Regions from separate parts of the Homo sapiens genome. Here region 1 is linked to region 2. The links come from fine-mapping of genetic effects on gene expression. A gene starts in region 2. The other region holds a variant in brackets. All regions are shown on one strand. Distances are between the middles of the regions. Region 1 overlaps SDK1-AS1 (SDK1 antisense RNA 1). Region 2 holds the start of SDK1-AS1 (SDK1 antisense RNA 1).

What was found. PIP is the estimated chance that this variant, and not a neighbour inherited with it, causes the effect.
Region 1: its variant is the best candidate, but not a certain one, in a credible set for the expression of SDK1-AS1 in breast (GTEx, PIP 0.88).

What each region holds. Positions count from the first base shown.
Region 1 is chr7:3,258,608-3,267,096 of GRCh38, forward strand. SDK1-AS1 (SDK1 antisense RNA 1) reads right to left here. Exons shown (of 3, transcript XR_001744897.3): 2 at 6,029-6,182. Among named protein-coding and RNA genes, the nearest start is that of SDK1, 38 kb to the right of the region's middle. The variant T/C (reference allele first, on the strand shown) is at 4,460.
Region 2 is chr7:3,347,316-3,355,804 of GRCh38, forward strand. SDK1-AS1 (SDK1 antisense RNA 1) reads right to left here and starts at 4,770. Exons shown (of 3, transcript XR_001744897.3): 1 at 1-4,770. The region is part of intron 1 of SDK1 (sidekick cell adhesion molecule 1); the gene reads left to right.

The DNA.
Region 1 (8,489 bases), 89 kb before region 2:
ACGCAAGATGATGGTTACCTCTGGAGAGGGAGAGCAAACAGTGTGATCAGAAACAGAGACATCCAGGCTTTCGATTACTACCTGTGATGTTGTATTTCTTTAAAAGACAAGAAAAAATTTGGAGGAAACAGCAAAATGTTAAGGCTTGTAAAAGTCGAATTGTGAGTACGCAGCATTTAACCCACCATTCCCTATATGTTTCTGTATGTTCCACATTTGTCATTGTATATGAGCTAGATAAAGAAGGAGATCAAGATCATCTAGAGGCATAACTTAATGAGATGTAACCCACATATGGCGAATTCCCACCTCTCAAGGATACAGCATGATGAATCTTTACAGAGTGAATTCCTCCAGAGAAGGGTATAGAATCTAGCATCCCAGAAATTTCCTCTCAGTGGCAGCCCCAGCAAAGAAAAAACACTATTGTGATATCTACCACCATTGATTGTATGGTTTTTTTGTTTTGTTTTGAGACAGTCTTGCTCTGTCTTGCCCAGGCTGCAGTGCAGTGGTGCAATCACAGCTCACTGCAGCTTTGAACTCCTGGGCTCAAGTGACCCTCCGGCCTCAGCCTCCCAGGTAGCTGGGTCTACAGGCGTGTGCCGTGACACCTAGCTAATCTCTTTTATTTTTTTGCAGAGATGGGGTCTCACTATTGTGAAACCCAAAAGTCTGAGACAGGTCTCAGTCCATTTAGGAAGTTTGTTTTGCCAAAGTTAAGGATGCGAGCCCATGACACGGCCTCAGGAGGTCCTGGTAACATGTGCCCAAGGTGGTCAGACCACAGCTTGGTTTTATACATTTTAGGGAGATGTGAGACATCAATCAACAAATGTAGGATGAACATTGGTTCAGTCCAGAAAAGGCCAGATGACTCAAAGTAGGGAGGGGGCTTCCAGGTACAATTGGTTGTATTCTACTGAGTTTCAGATGAGCCTCTCCAAAGGAGGCATTCAGATACGCATTCATCTCAGTGAACAGAGGAATGACATTGAGTCGAATGGGAGGCAGGTTTGCCCTAAGCAGTTCCCAGCTTGACTTTTTCCTTTAGCTTAGTGATTTGGGGGCCCCAAGATTTATTTTCCTTTCACGTTGTGTTTCCCAGACTTGTCTGGATCTCCTGACCTTAAACCTCCCTCCCTTCTTAACCTCCTAAAGTGCTGGGATTACAGGCATGAGCCAGCATGCATGGCCTGCGTTTTGTCTTTTGCAAGAAGGAATTGTCAGACGTGTGTGAATGAAAGCAACTCCATCTTAAATAGGAGCTGGGTAAAATGAGGCTGAGACCAACTGGGCTGCATTCCTAGATGGTTAAGGCATTCTAAGTCACAGGATGAGATAGGAGGTCAGCACAAAATATGGGCCATAAATACCTTGCTGATAAAGCAGCTTGCAGTGACGGAGCCGGCCAAAACCCACCAAAACCAAAGTGGCCACGAGAGTGACCTCTGGCCGTCCTCACTGCTACACTCCCACCAGCACCGGGACAGTTTACAAATGCCATGGCAACGTCAGGATGCTGCCCTGTATGGTCTAAAAGGGGGAGGCATGAATAATCCACCCCTTGTTTAGAATATCATCCAGAAATAACCATAAAAATGGGCAACCAGCAGCCCTCGGGGCTGCTCCGTCTATGGAGCAGCCGTTCTTTATTCCTTTACTTTCTTAATAAACTTGCTTTCACTTTGCACTACGGACTAGCCCTGAATTCTTTCTTGCGCGAGATCCGAGAACCCTCTCTTGGGGTCTGGATCTGGACCCCTTTCCTGTAACATATTTACGGCGATCACAAAGGGATTAAAGTGCAGAAACCCTACAGAATCACGCCAAATCATACGGTATATTCTCGTGAATGGCTGACTTCATTTTCTCAGCAGTATGTCTCTGGAGTTCCTCCGAAGAAGCCGTTTTCTAATCTTCAGCACTCATCCAATCAGAAGGCTGGAGCTCTGCGCTCGACATAAGGAAGAACTTCATCATTAACTCCCCGAGCCCTGCAAAGCAGCTGGGAGGGAGATCTAAGTTTTTGGAGTGGATTTCAGGATCCTTTGTACCCACAGCTGTTTAGGGAGCCGGCGTCCTGCTGACAGCTGTAGGTGGATTTGAAAATGTTCCCAAATTCCCTCCTGGCCCTCAGTTTCCCATTTCTCTTCCTCTCCTGATGTCGGCTCTAAATAAAGAAAAAACCAAGTGTCAGGGGCTGCAGAGAGGCTCCTGAGAATGCTCACATCTCAGCTCTCAGACAGCTCACAAGGGGTGTTAAAATAATTAAAGCTGAAAAGGGAGATGTAGGTATTATTTTTAGACAAGCGTCTAAGGTTTACCTGTTATACGTGCCCTTCATTCCTGTCCCTCATTCACTGCCAGCATCTTTTTTTTTTTCATTAAATAGAACAAAAATACACTTAAATTTTATGGCATGGCTAATAAAAAAAAAGGTTAAGTTGAACTCATTTCATCAAAGATTTGTGGTGGGATGACCCACTGTAGTTTTGTTGATGTGTTTGCTTTTTTAACAGACTTTATTTTTTAGGGTGGTTTTAGGTTTACAGCAAAATTGAGCAGAAGGTACAGAGAATTCCCATATACTGTCTGCCTCTCCAACACACACACAGCCTCCCACGCTATCAACATTCCTGCCATCGTGGCACATTTGTAATGGAAACCAAGAGTCTCTGAGACAAGTCTCAATCAATTTAGAAAGTTTATTTTGCCCAGGTTAAGGACATACCCATGACCCAGCCTCAGGAGGTCCTGATGACATGTGCTCAACCTGGTCAGGGTACAATTGGTTTATACATCATAGGCAGACATGAGACATCAGTCAATACAGGCAAGATATGCAATGGTTCAGGATGCGAAGGTGAGACAACTTGGAAACAGGGGCGTCCAGGTCATAGGTAGATTTAAAATTTTTCTGATTGGCAATTGGTTGAAAGAGTTATTATCCGTAGAAAGGAATGTCTGGGTTATGATAAAGGGTTGTGGAGACCAAGGTTTTGTTTTGTTTTGTTTTGTTTTTTGAGATGGAGTCTCGCTGTGTTGCCAGGCTGGAGTGCAATGGCACGATCTCAGCTCACTGCAACCTCCACCTCCTGGGTTCAAGCGATTCTCCTGCCTCAGCCTCCCAAGTTGCTGGGATGACAGGTGCGTGACAGCACGCCCAGTTAATTTTTGTATTTTTAGTAGAGACAGGGTTTCACCATGATGGCCAGGATGGTCTCGATCTCTTGACTTTGTGATCCGCCCGCCTCGGCCTTCCAAAGTGCTGGGATTACAGGCCTGAGCCACTGCACCTGGCCCAGATCAATGTTTTATCCTGCAAATGAAGCCTGTAGATATCAGGCTTTAGAGAGAATAGATTGTAAATGTTTCTTGTCAGACTTAAAGAGTCTGTTTTATCAGCAATTCCAAAAGGGAGGAGGGGATAATGAGGCATGTCTGGCTTTCTCTTTCCAACATGGCCTGAACTAGTTTTTTCAGGTTAGCTTTGGAATGCTCTTGGCCAAGAGGAGGGGTCCATTTAGATGGCTGGAGGACTTAGAATTTTATTTTTGGTTTACAGAAAAAATTGATGAACCTTACACTGTACATCATCATCACCCAGAGTCCAGAGTTTACATTAGGGTTCACTCTTGGTTGTGGTGTGTTTTCTCTGGGTTTGGACAAATGTCTAATGACATTGTAGGATCATACAGAGAGGTTTCACTACCCTAAAAATCCTGTGTGCTCCCTGCCAGCATTTTTTAACATCATCTCTTTCAAGTTGTTTTTGTCAAAAATGTTAAATTACCAAACAATGCGGCGATATGTTCTTGCAAAAGTAAAGGCTACAGATACGTGCTGATGGGTTCTCTCCACTGGTCTGGAAGCATGCAGCACTTACAAAGCGTCCTGACATGGGATCTGTTTCCTGCGTGTGCAGTGGTTGGTGGGTTACACTCTACCTGTCTGCTTCCCCATGTGTGGGAACTACAAGGTGGGCCACAGTTCCTGGTCAGCCACCACACCTAGCCAAAGACTTCCAGAGACTGCTCACAGGTCCCTGGAATCCATCCGTGAAATTGTCAGAGGCATTTGAACCAGAGCACCTCCATCTTGAAGAGGAACTGGGTAAAATGCGGCTGAGACCTACTGGGCTGCATTCCCAGATGGTTAGGCATTCTAAGTCACAGGATGAGGCAGGAGGTCAGCACAAGATACAGGACATAAAGACCTTGCTGATAAAATATGTTGCAGTAAAGAAGCCAGGCAAATCCCACCAAAACCAAGATGGCAACAAGAGTGACCTCTGGTCATTCTCACTGCTACACTCTCCCACCAGCATCATGAGTGTTTACAAATGCCATGGTAACGTCAGGAAGTTCCCCTATACGATCTAAAAACGAGAGGCTTGAATAGTCCACCCCTTGTTTAGCATATCTTCCAGAAATAACCATAAAAATGGGCAACCAGC[T/C]GCCCTTGGGGCTGCTCTGTCTATGGAGCAGCCGTTCTTTATTCCTTTACTTTCTTAATAAATTTGCTTTCACTTTACGGGCTCATCCTGAATTAATGAATTAATTCTTTCTTTCTTCTTCTTCTTCTTCTTTTTTTTTTTTTTTTTTTTTTTTTTTTTTTTTTTTTATGGAGTCTAGCTCTGTCGCCCAGGCTAGAGCTTGGCTTACTGCAACCTCTGCCTCCTGGGTTCAAGGGATTCTGCTGCCTCAGCCTCCTGAGTAGCTGGGATTACAGGTGCAGGCCACCATGACTAGCTAATTTTTGTTTTTTTTTTTGTTTGTTTGTTTGTTTTTTTAGTATAGACAGGGTTTCACCATGTTGGCCAGCCTGGTCTTGAACTCCTGAACTCAGGTGATCCACCTGTCTCGGCCTCCCAAAGTGCTGTGATGACAGGCGTGATTACAGGCGTGAGCCACCGTGCCTGGCCCACCTGGCTAATTTTTGTATTTTTAGTAGAGATGGGGTTTCACCATGTTGGTCAGGCTGGTCTCGAACTCCTGACCTCAAGTGATCCTCGGCCTCCCAACCAGGTCCAAGAACCGTCTCTGGGGGTCTTGATCAGGACCCCTTTCCTGTAATATCTTTCTGGTGTCCACAGAAGGGACTATACTGCAGAAACACCCAACCCAAAGGCTAATTTTGGGTAAGTGGTGGGATCCAGTAACAAAATTAATGGACCGACGGAAGTCCAATCCAAACTACAAAAGTAACAGAGACTTGTATAAAACACATGCACACACAGAAACACACACTGCACGGAGCCCCACAGAGAATTCCATTTTTGAATTATTCATTTTTCACTTCCATATTGTCATTGTTTTATCTGCAGTGGAGGGAGAATTCCCTGTTGCTGGTGAAGTTCATCAGAGTCTTATATGCTATGATCGGTGGGAGGGTGGATCACAAAATATGACAGTCTGAATTTGACTGCCAGATCTATTTGCCCACGCATTTAAACCCCATTCCCAACTTAGCTAAAGAAATTATCTCATAATAGTTTTGTTTTTGCATTGTGCAAAAGGACAGCACTAATTATCCAGGTAACTCAGGGCCTCCTGAAGCTCAGAAAACATTCCTGGAAAGAACACAATGAATAGTCACCTCTGCGAGAGGGGAATGCAGAGAGCTGCGATGCTGACTGGGAGAAAAGAGGAAATGCTGCTTGCCTTAGTGAAGCCGATTCAATCTCTGTGCAAGGGAGATACTGAGCTTATTTCAACAAAGAAGCAAAAATGAGATTGAGTTCATTCCCCATTCTGTGTAACCCAAACTGCATTCAAGGATAGTGTCTATTTGCTTGTAATTCCTCTTTGACTTGAGAAGGAAGAATCATGACTCTGGAGAAAGGAAGAATGGAAGAGAAGCAAGGTGCTGATTAGATGCTGGCTGAATTATGGAGAGTCTGTCCAGAAGAGGGGGGAGTTGGTGTACTTGAAGATTCAGCCAAGGAGAACAGTGGAAACCAATAAATTATTTTTGGCTTCTGAGAATAAGGACCTGTTGGTGGAAAAGGTTGGGAATGGAGTACCTGGGAAGGGAGGGAAGGGAGTGTTGTCCGATTTCGATGCAATGCCAGCATCTCTAAACTTGTAAGAGACAGCAGGCACAGTGGCCAGGACTCAGTTCCTCTGTCTGCAGCTCCCTGGGGCCACACAATGCAGTCCAGCTTTTGCCTTTGCCACCTGGAGTTAGGAGAGAAAAGCTTCGTGTTAAAACTTGAGGCACTCGAACGTTTATCAAATCTGAGATCTGCAAGTGTGTGCCTGCACCAGGGATTAGCAAACAACAAAATGCCATTAAAAGCTAAAAACAACAACAACAACTCTCTTTGCAGCATGTAGGTGCCTTTGCAAAGTTCTCTCTAAGCCAAAGTTCGTGGACTTCCAATCTTGTCAAAATCACTACTAATTAATACCTTTTCACTTCCCACTGAAAGAAAAACAATTCACCATTAAGTCAGGCAGCCTACCCATAATCACTCTAACACCTTCTATGTATGTTTTGAAACGTGCTCTCACATTTCATGATCCGTTTATTTTACAAGATGGGTAAACTGCAGACAATTATGGTGATAATACGGCTGAGGTGTTTGGTTTTTATCTGTTCGCAGTAAATTGTGGTTGTTCAAGCCTTCTCAGTAATGATTTCCATCCCTCTCTCAATCTCTTCCTATCACCTGGCGATAAATAGAATGTTTTTAAAAAAGAATGTTAGTTTACTATCATCATTATCACCTATTCAACTAGCAATATAATTAAATAATTTCTTGGTAGGTATGACTCAATTAAATTAATTACACTAACAGATATTCCATGGTACACGCCTCTAAAAATATAAAGCGTATTCACTGTTGTGTGTCATTTTTCTCTGTATAGGCAGGAAGAGCTATCTGGATAATTGAGCAGGCAATTTTGCTTTTGAAAGATGCTATCAAAGTACGCAAGGATTTAATTTCAGATTTTTTATTAGAAGACAGTGCCTTCTGCATGTAATTCTCCGCGGCTGATGCATTTCAGAGGTTCATGAGCAGCGGACACGAAGATAAAAACTGAAAGCCAGGGCTATGGGAATAGCTGGACCATCAGTGGAGTCTTGGCATCTTAGACCTGGTCTCTTGACTGCCTGTTCCTTCTGAAATGTCCTTAGGCCACTTTGGCCAGAGGCATTCTCGGACTTATGAAAAGGGGAACCTGTAGGCTGTTTGTTGAGGTCTAAAAGGATTAAGATTTGAAGGTGACACCCCTGTTGGGATAATCTCCCTCAAAACTCTTCTCTAAACAACTGAAGATAATATCCTTATACCTTTTGCCTGTGGTTCTCTCCAGGGGATGGTCTCAAAGTGTTCTTGAAAATGTGTTTGAAGAAAATAGGCAATGTATTAGTGTGATTTAAAGATTCCCTCCCAAAATTTTCACTTCCACGGGGCTCAGCGGGAAAATAGGGTAATGTAGAGTGAGCCTCTCTCCCTGGTGACATAGGTGGCCTCCTATTAATTAGGTTAGGGAAATGCAGAACTAACTTGCCATTTGGAGAAAGTCACATGAAATAGACTTCTTTTTTTCCGCCTCCAGAATTTTGAATTCATTGAACATGGCCACAGCAAGAGTCATTCTTTACAATCCTCTGACATTTGAAAGTAAGAAGCTTTAGACTTTATTCTAACGCTCTTTTACCTTCTTCCCGGTCCCTGACAACTGTCACACCAGGTCCACAGAGACAGCCACAACTCTAAAAGGGTCAGTTATATGGTAATAATGACAGCTAAGCTCCGCCAGTAGCACTCTAAATTTTGCAAAGTGGCTTTGCAAATATTAGCTCATTTGTTTATGAACCCAAGATCCCTAGCACTTAGCAGGGGTGGTGGTGGGGGTGTGAGTGGGAAGTGTGTTGGATTTCATTTATCTTTTAAAATCCTAACTGGGCTCAGTGTGGTGGCTCATGCCTGTAATCCCAATGCTTTGGGAGGTGGAGGTGGGAACATCACTTGAGGTCAGGAGTTCGAGACCAGCCTGGCCAATATGGTGAAACCCTGTGTCTACTACAAATACAAAAATTAGCCAAGTGTGATGGCACACCCTTGTAATCCCAGCTACTCAGGAGGCAGAGGCACGACAATTGCTTGAACCTGGGAGGCAGAGGCTGCAGTGAGCCAAGACTGGACCCCTCCACTCCAGCCTGGGCAACATAGCAAGACTCTGTCTCTACAAAATATAAAATTAGCCAAGCATCGAGGGGGTCTTAGCATCTTAGACCTGGGATTAGTGGTGCACGCCCATAGTCCCAGCTACTTGGGAGGCTGAGACAGGAGGATTGCTTGAATTCAGGAGTTCAAGGCTGCATTGAGCTATGATCTCACCACTGAACTCAAGCCTGGGCAACACAGTGAGACCCTGTCTCAAAAAAAAAAAAAACTAATAAATAAAAAATAAAAATAGGGCTGGGCTCAGTGGCTCATGTCTATAATCTTACCACTTTGGGAGGCCACAACA
Region 2 (8,489 bases):
TAGGTGAAAGAGTCTAATTTTGCATTATTAGTGTATATATGATATGTTGGATACCAGTTGGAGATCTGGTGATGTCATAAAGCTGTTGGTCTTACTATGCCTTTCCCAGAAGTACCTGATGAAGTTGGAACAAAATAACTTTTCACCTATTCTCTGATTACTACAGTCAAGGCTCCAGAACCCTAGCCATTGGGCTCAAATGTGCCGTTGAAGGTGATTTTCTGTTCCTAGATATTTTCAACCTCCCTGTTTCATTTCTGACCAATTTTTAGGGCCAGAGGCTAATCCACTAGAACAATATTTCCCTGTGGCATGGTTTTTAATTTTGTTCTGAATTTAGTTTATATTCCTAAGTGGCTTTACAAGTTTTTTCTCCCCATGCCCTCAGAGGAAGTTATGTTCTTCTGAACCTTCTGGGTACCATTTTAGTAAATTAAGAATTCAGTTCACTGAATGCTACCCCTGTGGCCTGAAAGAGTTAATACAAGTTTCTTAAGTACTTTATTAATTCTCAGGGAATAATTTATGCACTAGAGCGTGGCTTAGTATCGAGCCAGTTACAAACACATTAAATATGTTTTTTTTTTTTTCCTTTTGTGTAGTAAGTCTCTGAAAATAAGTGGAGGTTCACTTTAAGTGTAAGTATTTTGCTTCCTAAGTACTTAAATATGTATAATTCCACAATGAGAGAAGGAGTATTATAACAGAGGATGAGGTGGATTCAGGTCCTAGCTCAGCCCTGCACTTCTGTGAGGCCTTGGTGTGTTTACCTCCCTAAATGTCTCTCACCTCTAAAGTGGGGACGATGTTTACATCACAGACAGCAAAGCTCAATGATGATGCACTTAGGTTTTAATGCATAGCCCAGGCTTACTGCTTGGGTTTGATTCTTGGCTTCACTACTTGATAACTGTGTGATCCGAGGCAATTTTATTACCCTCTCTGACTCAGCTTTTTCCACTGTAAGCTGGAATAATGCTAGTACCTGACTCACAGTTGTTACGAAGGTAAGTGTGCAGTAAATGTGAGCCATTCATATACATCATGGACTACTATGCAGCCATAAAAAGGAACAAAATCATGTCATTTGTAGCAAGGTGGGTGCAGCTGGAGGTTGTTAGTGAATTAACACAGGAGCAGAAAACCGAAAACAACATGTTCTCGTAAGGGAGAACTAAACATCGAGTGCATATGGACATAAAGATGGGAACAGTAGACACTTGAGACTACTAGAGCGGGAGGGAGGAAGACGCAGGGCGGTGAAAACCTACCTGTTGGGTACTATGCCCACTACCTGGGCTATGGGCTCGTCTGCACCCCAAACCTCAGCATCATTTAGTATCCCCATGTAACCTGTGTATGTACCCCCAAATCTGAAATAAAAGTTGAAATTGTTTTTCAAAAAGTGAGCTGTTATTTTTTTTAAATACTCATTTGGAGGACTTTCTGAGCTGATCAAGTGAAATAAAATAAAAAGTGCCAAGTACTATGCCTGGAACATGGCAGCAAACAGTGAATAGAGGATGACTTTTGCTTTTATTAACTACTTAAGGTTTATCTATAGCAAGTTCCAGTCTTAAGATGCACATGTGAAAAGCTGCCTGTCACATGAAAGAGTTTGATGCCATGTAGCTTGTCATGTTGTCAGACTCTGTCCCTGGAGTGTGCCCCTCACGTTTTTGTGCATGTCACTGTGGCATTTATGTGACTGGTCTGCGCTTCTTTCTCCTTTTTACCCCTTTGGCTGCAGGATGTTGAAGTGCACTTCAGTTTTGTCGTTCTCATTTCCCTTCTGGATTCTTGCTCCTCTCCTACTTCTGCTGCCTCCTTCCTCAGTCCCCCATTGCCTTCAGCTGCCCTGTGGTTGCAGTTTAAAAAAAAACAACAAAAAAAACACAACAAAACAAACACACAACAGCCTATTTAGATGTATACCTTTGACTTTATGAGGGCTGTGGTTTTGTGGGAAGAGCAGGGTCTCACCCTTATTAGACTGTGGTTCATAATCACTTAAAGAGAACGTCATTCTTGGAGTTACTCATCTGAAAAAGAAGCCTGCTCCTCCAACTGGAAGGGGAATGGGGCTGGGGAGGGAGGGGGTTACTGTTGGATGGAACTGTGCTTGGCTATTGGACCTGAGTGACTGAACACAGTGTCCATGAAGGAGCTGGCTAGGCATGTGTTCTGCGGGGACCAGCCCTGTGAGGGCAGAGGACTAAGAAGCGAAGGATATGGGCAAGGAAACTGTGGAAGTCATACCTGCCTTTTTGGGCCAGAGTACATGTATCTTTTATTTTTTTTTGAGACGTAGTCTGGCTCGGTCGCCCAGGCTGCAGTGCAGTGGTAAGATCTCGGCTCACTGCAAGCTCCACCTCCCGGGTTCACGCCCTTCTCCTGCCTCAGCCTCCCGAGTGGCTGGGCCTACAGGCACCTGCCACCACGCCTGGTTAATTTTTTTTTGTATTTTTAGTAGAGACGGGGTTTCACCGTGTTAGCCAGGATGGTCTCGATCTCCTGACCTCATTATCTGCCCGCCTCGGCCTCCCAAAGTGCTGGGATTACAGGCATGAGCCACCGTGCCCGGCCTAAGAGTACATGTATCTTAAGACCACATCCTGGATTGGTAGATACAGAAGGTTTACTCCTTGGGCAGTGCTGGACTCTTGATGAAGTAGCAGGTAGAGGATGAAGTTTGGGGACTTTGTGCCTCTCACATTTATGCCTGCTTTTTAATGTAGCCCAATAACAAAAGGTCATGCTATTGGTGATGGGTGGGTAAGGTACCTACTAACAGTAAGTTTAGCTTAGGGAGAGGTAAGCCATTTTAAGTCTATCAGTATATAATGGATCACAGAAGGAGAGAGTGGGAGACACTCAGTCTATCAGAAAACATAGGATGGATGTGCCACAGAGGAAGAAGTTGTCACTTAACAATGAGTGTGGAAAAAAACAAAGTTTATCAGTGTCTGTGTGGGCGTTATTTATTTGGGGACAGCATCCTAAGGCAGGCATATTCCCACAGTGGAAATGGATGTGGTGTGATGCCATGAACTTGTGAAGCAAGTGAGTCCCTTTGTTGTGATTCCAAATTTACTCAGCACATAACTGATTATTATCTGCTCCCCAGTGTAGTTGTAGTGGGACAGATTACATTGCCCAGAAGAGTTCAGTATTCAGTCTTCTTGGTGGTTATTTTGTTGTAAATTAATAATACTGATAGTATGTCATTTTGCTTTTTATAATTGATTGTCTTTAACTTTGCCCTGAGGCATTTTTCCTAATCAACTCTAGACCATGATAGAGCCTTTGGGCCACAAGACTAACAGTCTTACCTTGAACCACCAGTCAGTGAGGTGTTTGGGAAAACCTTTTCCTGGTGATGTCTCATCTTTTCCTTCTACAGTCACCAATGTCATATTTACTGTGTTAAGATGCTAGGCTTTGTACTGGCTTGTTTACTTCTCACGATTTATCTTGCAGTATGATAGTTTGTGTGACACTGAAAAAAATTAGTAGGACTGTTAAAATAGTTTTTTCCCCCCATTAAAAGTAGAATGACACCGTTTTGCTTCTGAAGAATTTGGCTTTAACTGGTTTATATTTTGAGCTGGGTATTAAAGGAGAATTATGGTAGGGTAAACACAATTAGTGACATCTGGTTGCCCCAAGAATCAATAATATCTGATACTACATACATAAATAGATATCTATGTTGTGATAATATATCTTAGTTTCACTGGGTAAAACTAGAAGAATAAAAAATTTGAAAACAGCTTGGTTACTGACTAAGCTGCAGCAGTTCTGAGAGCCTACTGTTGTCATTTTTAATGGGCAGCCTTGTACTTCCATAGATTGGTTAATCTTAAAGGCCAGATGGTAGTTGTATTGTAATTTCATAAAGATTTTATGTCCTATGTTTTGCTTTCAACTAGAAGCATGAGAATTTAGGAAAGTTATATTGAGACATATAAATAATAAAAATTGGTGAATCATTTTACCTAACAATTTATTGATATTACTCAACACAAGGAGAAAAATTAGAAAATGGACCTTAACACCACTGTCTACTATGAAGACAGTATAGAGGAGGCAGGAAAAACAGAAAGCACACAATAACATGATAGCTATAAATTCAAGTGTCAGTAATTACAATAAATGTAAATAGACTAGAGGATTCTGCTAAAAGACACGTCAGATTGGATTAAAAACATCTGAGATACTAGGTTTACAAGAAGCATATCTAAAAACAAAGATACAGAAGGCAAAATAATGGAAAATTTTATTTCAGGCTCACTTTAAGCAAAATAAAGCTGGTATAACATGTTGATATCAGACAACATAGAAATCAAGGCAAAAGGCATTAGAGATGAAGAGGATCACTGCACAGTGGTAAAAGGTTCAGTTCAGATATAGGTACATATTATATAAAGCAAAAATATACAGAAACAAGAAAAATAGCTGAATGCACAATCCTAGTGGGAAGTTAACATACCTTTCTGAATAGTACAACTTGCAGACAGAAATCTTAGGATATGGAAGACTTAAAGAACATGATCAATGAACAAATCTGACCTCATGGACATTCATAGAATGTTACAGTTCCTGTATAATCCATTCTTTTCAAGCACATGGAGCATCTGACATTGATTACATATAGGAATATAAAGCAAGTATTGATAAATTTCAAATGATTGAAATCATGTAGAGTATTTTTCTTACGGAATTATAGAAGGAATCAACCAAAAGATAACAGGAAAATCCTTGTATGTCAATAAATTAAGAAGTATATTTCTTATAATGTATAATATATAATTTTATAAATATATAAATATATATTTATAAAAGTTTCATTTAAAAAGTTTTACAAAATGGAAAAATCTGTCACTTAAATACAAAATCACTGTACTTCTGACCCTACTAAATGTAAAAATTGTCAGGATTTGGGAGGTTTTTTTTTTGATGTCCAAATACTTGATACACGTTCCAGAGATCCCCAATATTTTTGTGAATTCTTCTTAGGAGGCTAGTGATCATGTATGTGGGATTAGGAAAGTAATTGTTTGAGCTAAATGGGGGAAGAGATCATTCCTGCTGGTAGCAGGGAGGGTGTGCCACGACGAGAGATCTGTGGATTTACTGAAAACACGAGATTTACATCCAGAGCTTAGTTCACAGGCTGTGGCTCCTGTTTTTATTCATTTAGAGGCTGATAGACCAGCTGTGCCTGTAGTTACGTGTTCTTTGGCCAGACACCTAAGGAAATTTGAGGCTCAGACAAGCTGAAGTAGATATTTCTGTTTCCATGTTGAATAACAGAGCCACTCATGGGCTGTCACAGATACACTGTTTGGGGTTTTACCATTCCTTCCCATTTCCATTCCTGAAGGAAAAAGAGAAGAGATTTTTCTTTTTTTTTCAGATTATTACTGTGTTGGTGACCTAGGGAAACCCTTTTTTTTTCTCTTCTCTTTTCACAAAGTTCTGAGGAGCATGAAAAAATTGAGGTATTCACAGTGTCTGGGGAGGAAATGAGTTCTGTCCTGTATTTTCCGAAGAGTGGGAATCTAAATCGGAACAGGCACCAGGTTGAAGAAATAATTTGTCACATCATGGATGCAGGAACAAGCTCTACATGGGAATACTTTGTTGTAGTTAGGGTCTGTCTTGAGGGAAAACAAGACATAAAGGGTATGTGAAATGTTTTCTGGTGATCATATCCCACCGTGTCATTAGTTCTTTTAAAGTACTTTTTCTATATTATCCCAATTTAGCTTTTTTTGCACCCTGCAGCAATTCTATTTCTATTTTGTTTCCTGTTATCATTGTTCCCTTTTCTGAGTAGAGGATAGATAGGTAAGTGGTGTAAGTAATGGCATGGAAAGATCCAAGAACCATTAAGTAGATTATATCCCTTTTTACTATCCTTTTCTTAAAGTGCTTGACTTAATTCTGAATAGCCACTTACAAACTTTGATGAGTATCTTTCATCTTGGGGGTTATTTTGAAAATTGATGGCATTTGGAATAAAAGTTGCTATAACCTTAGTGTACGTTTGGGTTTATAAAATATACTGAACATAGGAACTCACATGACTCCCAATTTTTGAAGTAACCATAATTTCTAAAAAAAATTCAAATGAGCTGAGTTACATTTATACCACTCCTGGGAATTATTAGAATAGCATATGTTCTCTGTTTATGCTCTTTGTAAAATTGGAAAAGTAATGTGTAGCTCTTTTTAGTAGTGCCCTGTGTGTAGTTTCTGTAACAGTTCTGTAACTGTAACTTACCATTCCAGTCTATTTCTGAATGGTTAGTGGAGCTGCCCGTCAAAGCCAGACCTATTACAAGGGATGATATTTCCCCTGTCATGAATAGAAACTATTGATGACTCGATTAACATACAAGGATGATACAGTTCATGGTTAAAGGGAGCATGCTTCCTTTTGCTGGTGAAGGAACATTAACTGTAGATTTCATCTAGAAGATCACTAGAAAAAGCAGCCTCCCATGTTTGAGCGTGTCCTGCATGTCAGTTTCCATGCAGATGCTTTCTGTACGTCTTCACGTCCTCCTCATCCATGAGGTTGGAGGTGAAAGTTACGTAACTGACTTGCTCAGGGAACACATTTCATGTTGCAACCGGGCTCCATAGCCACATTTCAGACCATTTTTCTTTTCTTTTTTTTTTTTTTTGGGACAGACTCTCGCTCTGTTGCCCAGGCTGGAGTGCAGTGGCGAGATCTCGGCTCGCTGCAAGCTCCGCCTCCTGGGTTCACACCATTCTTTTGCCTCAGCCTCAGCCTCCCAAGTAGCTGGGACTGCAGGCACCCGCCACCACACCCGGCTAATTTTTTGTATTTTTAGTAGTGATGGGGTTTCACTGTGTTAGCTAGGATGGTCTTGATCTCCTGACCTCATGATCTGCCTGCCTTGGCCTCCCAAAGTGCTGGGATTACAGCGCCTGGCCTGACCATTTTTCATTTAACCAGCATTCAGATTATTAAGTCAAACGGAAAAAAAAAACAGGGATATAAACCTATTAGAAACCAATGTGACTGTTTCATGCCTTACATTTATGTCTGGAAAGTTGAATATAAGGAAAAAGTTGTTTTTTGAAATAGTTTTTCATTGGTTCCAATGATTATTCGAGAGTTTTCCGTGAAAGAAGTATAGGTAACATAATAAAAGTTAAAGTTAACAGTCTTAACACTTCAATTGTAAGAATATTTTGTGGTGTCAGTGTATTAATAGCTCCTGAAAGAAAATTGTCAAATGTAATCAGTCTACATTTTTTTCATGTGTATCAAAGCTACCCATTTATTAAATCACAGAAGTTAATTGTGTTTCATTGGGAATTAATATTGACTTTATAGGTCTTGGGTAGATTATTTAAATAGCCCTGCTAGCTAATATGTTAACCCCTGCCCTTATTACAAATACATCCTGACGGATAAGGGCAAAATATTATTGACTAGATTATGCTTGAATATCTCAAAATGAAAACAGAATGAAGCAGCTAACCAAGGAAACGATTGGACTTAAAGTGTACGTACTTGATCACGTTAAAGAGGCCTCACTGCTGTGTAACAATAGATGCTTAAAATAATCCACCAGCCAACACTCACTACATGTGAAAGTGGTTTACTTTCTTGTGTCTGTGGGGAAGCTCTAATTATATGATTATAATTAAGCTACAGTTTATTTTCTCATTTTCTCTGATTAAATTGTGGTGGGAAATATCTGGCCAAATCTAGTCTTTTCTTAGTCATGTTATTTGTTAATTCCATTGACACATCTTATTAAAATTTGCAGCAAGGTGTTTTCCTGTTAAAGTAATTGAAGATTTCAGAGTATCTTATATCTAAAAATTGTGAATATTCTCTGAAACTAGACCTAAAGTTCTTAAAATATAAATGCGTCATTCACGTAGATTATGGAGTTACTTTTAAAATGTAGCTATCCACTGAAGAAAATTGTGAAAATGTCCCATTAACGATTTGCAAATTTATTTATTTAGAGATGGGGTCTTGCTTTGTTGCCTGGGGTGGAGTGCAATGGTGCGATCGTAGCTCGCCATGGCCTCCAACTCCTGTGCTCAAGCAGTCTTCCTGCTGCCTCAGCCTCCCATGTTGCTTGCAATTACAGGCCTGAGCCACTGGGCCTGGCTGCCATTTGTAAATTTAAATCTTAACACTTATGTGGTGTTTCCAGTTAGATTTCTTCTCCGTTCTTTGCATCACCTTCTTAGATCTTCCCCATTCTTCTCAATCCCCTGTTCCCTCCATCTTCACGGTACCTTTCATGGAGGAAATAGAAGCCATCACTGGGAATACCCTCAGCTTTCCACCGACAAATCTATTCCTGCAGACACCCGTCATTGCAATTTATATTTTAACAAAGGCTTCTGATCCTAATTTCAGGAAATAGCCTCTAAACTCATCTATTAGTCCCAAATTCTTTACCCATTTAATCTGCTATTTTATGCCT